2 linked regions of the Homo sapiens genome follow. The protein of the gene in region 1 purifies or fractionates together with the protein of each later gene. This does not show direct contact. Each region holds a gene or a part of one and is shown on either strand. Other genes may lie near its edges. The genes, in order: ENG and ACVRL1.

Region 1 (3,600 bases):
CAGCTCCTAGGGCTGGATTAACTGTCCCTGGGGCACAGATCTCGGTCTGGGGCCTGTGGAAACCTCAGAGCCACCCCTGAACCCCCACCGAGCCACCCTTTGCCTCGCAGTGCCCATGGCCTTGTCTCCGAGGTTACAGGAAAAGGCAGAGGAGATGCCCTTCTCAGGGTGGCCCTCTGGGAGAGGACACTCTCCCTTGACCTCAAAGCCACGCTTGGCTGCAAACTGGCCAGGCAGCCACAAGGCTGGGCAAGCAAAACTATCCCTAATCCCCACCCAAAGAGCCACACCGACCCTCCCAGCCGCTGTGACAGCTCCTGCAGAGACAAACACACGGCCTACTCTTGTCACCCGGGCCGGCCAATAAGCACGGAGAGGCAAGGCCTCAGACCCTGGACAGACATCCTCCCTCCAGAGGCACCCAGGGCCTCAGCCTTCTCCTCCCTCCCTGGGCCTCAATTTCTCCACCTGTGACCCAGGGCAGGTGGATCCAGGGAGAAGAACCTTCTGGCTCCATCTCACCGTGGGTCCTGCCAGCACACACAAAGATTTGGCCTCTCAAAGCCTAGCTCTGCCAGCGTCCTTCTGCTCAAGAACTCTCCATGACTCCCAGTGGCCCTAAGGACAAAGTCCTGGCATTTGAGGCCCTCCCAATGCAGGGCCAGACTCTGCCTCTCCAGCTTCCTGTCCCCACCACACCCCTGCTGGTCTCACGGTGGTCCGACTGTTTCCTGCTTCTGTGCCTTTGCTTAGTCTGGCACCCCTGCCTGGCATGCTTTCCTCACCCCTTCTTCTCCCCAATCCCAACTCACCCAGTCTTTCAAAGGGCAGGCCTAAATACCAGGCCCTCCAGGTGGCCCAGGATTCCTTCTCTGAGCTTTCATGGGCCTGGCCCTGGGTGCTACCTGTGAGTAGTCCCACGGTGGGTACATAGTAGGTGCGCTTACTGTTTGCAGAATGAACATGGGACAGTTTGGGGACTGTCACCCAGCTCAGGGAGCACTGATGGGGAAGCATCTCCTGTATGTCCCAGGGCTCAGTGCTGTAGTGTCCTGACCCTCAGAAATCTCATAATGGCTTGGTCAGGAAGGCATCGTGCCCCACTTTGCAAACAGGGGGTGCTGAGAATTGAGGGGCCTTGTCCAAGGTCTCATGGCTAGGAGCAAGCAGAATCGGATTTGAACCCAGGGCCACGTGACTTCAGAAGTGCCATTAAAGTCCCCATAATTTGGAGCTGTCTTCTTTTTTTTTTTCTTTTCTTTTTTTTGAGACCGAGCCTCACTCTGTCACCTAGGCCAGGAGTGCAGTGGTCTGATCTCAGCTCACTGCAACCTCCGCCTCCTAGGTTCAAGTGATTCTCTAGCCTCAGCCTCCCAAGTAGCTGGGACTACAGGCGCACGTCATCATGCCCAGCTAACTTTTGTATTTTTAGTAGAGATGGGTTTTCACCATGTTGGTCAGGCTGGTCTCGAACTCCTGACCTCAAGTGATCCGTCTGCCTCGGCCTCTCAAAGTGCTGGGATTATAGGCTTGAGCCACTACACTCGGCCTGGAGCTGTGTTTTGTCGGTGAAGGATTTTCCACCCATGAAGGGGTCAGACGTGAAGTGTGTGGCCCTGGGCAGCTCCTCTGAGCCCAGAGACGCCAGCCCTAGCCGCCTTGCTGTGCCACTTTGGGACTTCCCTCCCTAGCCTGAGCTTCAGTTTTCCTGCCTGTTAGGCAGCCCCATGTCAACTGCACTTAGTAGGCCGGGTTTGATGCCCGACAAGACGTGAAGTGGTGGAGGTGGGCAGGATCCCAGCGCTACCATCTTCTTGAACCAGTGATCTCAACACATCGGATTTCTGTTTCCTCATCTGCAAAATGGGATCAGTGAGCTCAGGTGGGTCACAAATTCTACAGGAACTACTTTAGCCAAGACCGGCCCCCTGAAAGTTCCCCTCGGTGGGCTGTTAGGGTGATTGTTTTCATCTGTGGGGCTCCCTGATGCGTCCCACCCACCAGCCTTGGAGAGGGTGGGATGGGAGGGTGGGGTGCTTGGGGAGACAAGCCTAGAGCCTGGGCCCTCCCACCCCACTGCCTCCCCCCATCCCAGGGCCCCCCACCCAGTGACAAAGCCCGTGGCACTTCCTCTACCCGGTTGGCAGGCGGCCTGGCCCAGCCCCTTCTCTAAGGAAGCGCATTTCCTGCCTCCCTGGGCCGGCCGGGCTGGATGAGCCAGGAGCTCCCTGCTGCCGGTCATACCACAGCCTTCATCTGCGCCCTGGGGCCAGGACTGCTGCTGTCACTGCCATCCATTGGAGCCCAGCACCCCCTCCCCGCCCATCCTTCGGACAGCAACTCCAGCCCAGCCCCGCGTCCCTGTGTCCACTTCTCCTGACCCCTCGGCCGCCACCCCAGAAGGCTGGAGCAGGGACGCCGTCGCTCCGGCCGCCTGCTCCCCTCGGGTCCCCGTGCGAGCCCACGCCGGCCCCGGTGCCCGCCCGCAGCCCTGCCACTGGACACAGGATAAGGCCCAGCGCACAGGCCCCCACGTGGACAGCATGGACCGCGGCACGCTCCCTCTGGCTGTTGCCCTGCTGCTGGCCAGCTGCAGCCTCAGCCCCACAAGTAGGTGTCCAGGGACCCAGGGTGGGGAGACTCGGCCTCCGGTGCACGGACCAGGCCCCAAGTATTCCCGGCCTCCTTCCTGTATCCTGAGCTCACGCCCAGCAGAGCCATCCTTGGGGCTCTGGAGGGTCACCAACCCTCCCAGTTTGCTGGAACTAAATGGTTATGCAGGACTTTCAGTGTTGAAAGAAAGCCTCGGGCAAACTGGGCTGACTCTTTCACTTTAACCCTGGTCTCTGGCGTCTGCTCACCCAGCTGCGTTCCATTACTCCCCGGGAAGCCTAGGTCCCAGAATGCTGTGCAGCGACGGGAGAGTTTCCTGGCCTCTCTGGGCCTTGAGTTTCCCCATGAGGAATGGATGGGAAGGAGGGCCCACAGCCTGGGCTCTGAGCACCGTCTCTGGGTTCAAATCTCACATAGGCACTTCCTTGTGGTGTGATCCTGGGGGACTGCCTTCGGGCCTCTGAGCGAAGTGGGGAAGAGAACAGACTTCCCTCTCAGAGCTGCTGAGGAGGTGGGTGGTGAGGGATCATTGCAGAGAGGGCTCTGGCAGACTGGCCACTTCTGTGTTGTTTTATTTTTAGCTTTAAGTTCCTCCAGCTCACCTTCCCCAGGGCCTTTGGGCAGCTCCTCAAACCCTTTGAACAGGCCAAGGCTGCAGGGCCCTGCCCTGCCTCCCTCCTACCTCCCTGATCCCCAGAAAGGGTGCAGGAGTGGGTGCAGGCCAGGTTAGGGGTTCTGTGGGGCTCCTTGGCCTGGGGGCTCTTCCAAGGGGTCATGGCCTCTGCTGCTTTCTGAAACTGACCAGAGGAGGGGCGGTGAGGAGCAAGGGACCCCCAGCCCCATGTCCCACTCCCTATCCCTCGGCCACCTCAAGCCGCTGGCCGGTCCTGTGGACATCCTTTGACCCACCTGTGCATCCAGGGGCTTCCTGACAGATTTGGGGGAAGAGGGGCAGAAATGAGCTGAGAGTGTGGGGAGGAAGGGGAA
Region 2 (4,108 bases), on another chromosome or scaffold:
TCTTAATAAACTTAAATTGCTGATAATAAATCATTCCTTGGTCATTGTTATTCCTCCAGTTGTTTGGGGTTAGATGAGTCCCTCAAAGGAAGAAAAAGACATGGGTCTCGGTGGACGTGTACAAATTGCCCACTACTGTTGTTATTAACGGGTGCCCTACTCAGATTTGTTTAAATGAAGACAGCGTTTTTGTTTGTTTTTAATTTTTTTTGAGACAGGGTCTTGCTCAGTCGCCCAGGCTGGAGTGCAGTGGTGCAATCATAGCTCACTGTAGCCTTGAACTCCTGGGCTCAAGTGATCCTCCCACCTCAGCCTCCCAAGTCCCAAGGGACTACAGGGGTGCAGCACCATGCCCAGTTTTATTTTTAGTAGAGATAGGGTCTCACTATGTTGACCCAGGCAACAAAGGTGGTGTTGCTGCCCAGAAATCATCTGTTTGCCATAGGCTTAGTCAAAGTCTGAGCCTCAGGTGGGGAGAGCCAGAGTAGTGGTATGCCCGAAAGGTGCTTATCAATGTTTTTCTCCCTAGCACACCTGAAGGATTGATAAAACCTACTCCCATCAACGGCAGTGGCTCAGCACAGCAGTGATCTTCACAGGGCTGGAGAAGCGCCATATCAAGCACAACCTTCTGGACTCACTCTGCACTTCAGTAGGCCTTACCCCAACAGCAGAGGAGCAGACCCAGCTGTTCATATTGGGTTGCCCTTACGATTCATCCATGTGATTTATTAGCCCTTCACAGCGGGGTGATGCAGTGGAACATCCAGGTGATGCCTGGATTTTCAGGTCTCAGGCAGACCATGGAGGCAGCACAGTGTAGCACAGAGGTTAGGGTGTGGGCTCTGGAGCATGGAGACCTGGGTTCAAATCCTGCCTTTGCCACTTAGAGGTATGAAATTTGAGACGTTACTTAAACTTTCTGAGGCTTAGGCTTCCCATCATATGTAAAGTGGGAATAATAATAGTGTTATCTCATAGGTAAAATGTAGTACAATTATTTAGCAGAGTATAAGTAGTACACAGTAAGCACTGAAATGTTATCAAGACCCCAACCATGCCATTCACCCCACCATCCAAGGAGTTTTGGACAAGTCCCATATTCATGTCTGTTTCCTTTTCTGTAGGAAGGGGATAGTAACCCCTCTTCCACTAGGTTGCGGCCAGGATTACATGAGAAAAAATATATATATCTAAGTGTCTACATAGTTAGTACTCAATCAATGGTAGCTATTTCTAACAAACCAATGAAATGGGGGGACAGGTGAGAGGACAGGTATTAGGACAGACCCTGACTCAGCCAGAAGCTGGCCATACATAGAGAGAGTGAGAGCAACTGTCCATTATGCCCCTGTCCTTGGAGAAGGAAAGAGGAGCTGGGGCAGCCAGCCCAGCCATGGGTTTCACAGCACTGGCCTCCATGGAAAAATCTGGGGTCCCAGCCTGGGGGGAGACTGGGATCCCCTTTGGCCTGGATCCTGAAGGAAGGTCGTGGCAAGGAGGTGACTGACCATGCGCGCCTAGGGTGAGACTCCTAGGTTGGAGTGATAGTGTCAGATTCCTCAAGCAACAGCTGGAAGGACTGATCTGGGAAAGGTGAGCTCTGCTGGGAGGCTCAACAGCTGTGGAAGTAGGCATTCACTCCAGGTCCACCCAGCGGCCTGGAGGACGTGTGATCCCTTCTATGTGAGTAGAGCAAGACAGGAATCCCACTGCCCATTTTATGAAGAGGGTAGGAGAACAGAGAAGTGAAGTCACTGACCCCAGGTCACCCGACTAGAACCAAGTTTCTGATTTCCAGTCCAGTCTCGTCCATTCCCCTCCAAGTCTCAGGTAGGGTCATGGGAGCTGTGCGTGGTCAGCCAGGAGCAGCTTGCCTTTCTAATGAGCTGGGACTGAGCCTCCCGCGACCACTCTGCGGTGACTCTGGGGTCCGCCCGAAGGAAGGGCCCACTGAAGCGGGGGTCAGGCCGCCCGCCACCCGGTCCCGTCCGCGGACCTCGACTCACCTCTGGGCCCGCTCTGCGGGTGGCGGGGCGCTAGCCTTCGGCGGACCGGGGCCACCTCCCCTCCACCGCGCGGCCGCAGTTGCACCGCCAGCGCTGGACGGCGGGCTGGGGTCCGGGCGCGGCCCCGGACCGGGCTGGAGCCGGGGAGGGGCTCGCTCGGCGCAGCTGGCGCGGCAGCCTCCCGGGACTGGGATGGGGGCTGGAGCAAAAATGTTTCTTATTCCAGCGTCTTCCTGCCTGGCCCAGCTCCACCACTCCCTCCTAATAAACCGTTTCCTTATTGCCCAGCTCGCCGACTGGCCGCCGCTCGCCCCTCGCTGGGGCTGCAGGACCGGGACCCACCCCCGCGCCGCTCCCAGCCCCTCAGGGCGGCCTCCCCTCCCAGCCGCCCGCAGCTCCCGGGTCGCTGGCCCGCACCCGGGCCGGGCCTCCCACATCCGCCTCCCCGAGGGGGCGGGCCTTGGACTCAGGCCGTGGGGGTCCTGTGGGGGTCCCATAGGGGTCCCGTGGGGTCCGGACCCACAGCCGTGGGAGACAGAGCCGAGACTGTAGGCAACGTCTGGCGGCCGGAGTAGTGGGTGGGGGTAGAGGGGGATCGGCTGGCAGCAGCGGAGGGGCCGCCTGGAATCGGGGCGCCGGGAAGGGGCCACCGAGGAAGGGACAGGCGGGGGTGGGACGGGGAGGGACACTACCTATCCTTACCCCACCCTCAGCCCGGGGGTCCTCGGTCTAGGAGGCTTGCAGCAATGAGGGCAGAGTTTGGGGCTAGCAAAATCCAGATGCGTTTTGACTCCGCCCTCGGGAACTCCCGACTTGGCCCAAATCCTTCAGTCCCCTCCCTCGGGCCCCTTCGTCCCCCATTTGTCCCCTCCTGTCTTCAGCAGCCTCTCCCGATCCGCACTCAGCACAGGGGTATACAGGCCCAGAGGACGGCCTTGGGTTAGCCCTGAGGATGGTTTGAGCCCTTCCTGGCCGTTGTGCAGCTGGGTGACAAAGACACCCCCGCCCCGCCAGGGACAGTCAGGATGGAGGGACACGCTGGGAGCAGCCTTGGACCTTCCCCTTCCAGGCAGGGCCCCCACCCCAGCAAATGGAGCTTTAGATAGAGGTGGGGAATGGAGCCTCCCTGGAACTCTGCTGACACAAGGCAGCTGGGGAGGGAAGCAGAATGGCTTCATACCGGCAGGGGAGGGGGACACAGACTCTTCCTGATGCTCCTGCACAGGCTGGGAGCACTGACCTCACTGCCCTGCTTTGCTCCAACCATCTAAGTACCTGCAGGACTCTGGTCTTAGTCCTAGCCTCCTGGTTATCCACAGAGACTCTGAAGTCAAACTACCTACTAGGAATGCAGGCTGGTTGTGTTACCGTAGGCTAGTGACACCTCTCCATGCTTCAGTCCCCCATCTGCTAAATAGGCATAGTAAACCGTGCCAGCCTCATAGGGTGGTTGTGAGAATAGACGGAAATGATGCTTATCTCAGCTCATAGCAAAGATGCTGGCTGGCTGAGCCTGACTCAGAGGAGGCCCTCAATGAAGGCGTTCGTTAATTAAATGAATAAATGAAAAGGCTGGGGAGGGGGTGGCCTCAGAGACACTTGGAAAGACGTGGGTATTAGAAGCAGGAGTAGACCTCTAAGGTGTCTTACTCTAATATGGGGATTCTACAAGATGAGCCAGGGACCCCTCCTCCTGCCCCGCCCCACCTTTTGACAGGAATAGAGGCTGGGGGAGATAATGGCTAAAAGCTCAGACAGGCATCAATTATTGACTGACCTCACTTCCTCTGCTGAAACCCTCCCCATCCCCCACCCCACAGCTGCTTCACAAGTTGTGAGCGTTGTGAATTCCCAGAACCCTGACACACCCAAATTTCAGTGTCAGGACAGAACTGTGTCCTGCAGCCAATAGGAAGTACTATGGGATTACGATATCTGCTCTTTCAGATTATAGCGGCCACTTGGGCCCTCTACGAGCTGGAGAACTGGGAGCCTGGCCGCGGGTCTGTCTTTCACACTCTCTCTCCCTGCTCCGCTATGGCTTCTGGTCAACCTTTTCCTCCCCCAACCCCTGGATCTCTGTCCTGAGAAGCGAGAGT

The links.
Region 2: the proteins of ENG (region 1) and ACVRL1 purify together in Homo sapiens (affinity purification with western blotting; 3 studies listed by BioGRID and IntAct, with this or other methods). This does not show direct contact.

Annotation. Positions count from the first base shown.
Region 1 is NC_000009.12:127,853,299-127,856,898, reverse strand, and holds the start of ENG (endoglin isoform 1 precursor), read left to right. Parts: upstream 1-2,240; 5' UTR 2,241-2,543; coding exon 2,544-2,610; intron 2,611-3,600. UniProt on the Homo sapiens protein: Vascular endothelium glycoprotein that plays an important role in the regulation of angiogenesis. Required for normal structure and integrity of adult vasculature. Regulates the migration of vascular endothelial cells.
Region 2 is NC_000012.12:51,905,597-51,909,704, reverse strand, and holds the start of ACVRL1 (activin receptor type-1-like isoform 1 precursor), read right to left. Parts: upstream 2,202-4,108; 5' UTR 2,010-2,201; intron 1-2,009. UniProt on the Homo sapiens protein: Type I receptor for TGF-beta family ligands BMP9/GDF2 and BMP10 and important regulator of normal blood vessel development. On ligand binding, forms a receptor complex consisting of two type II and two type I transmembrane serine/threonine kinases.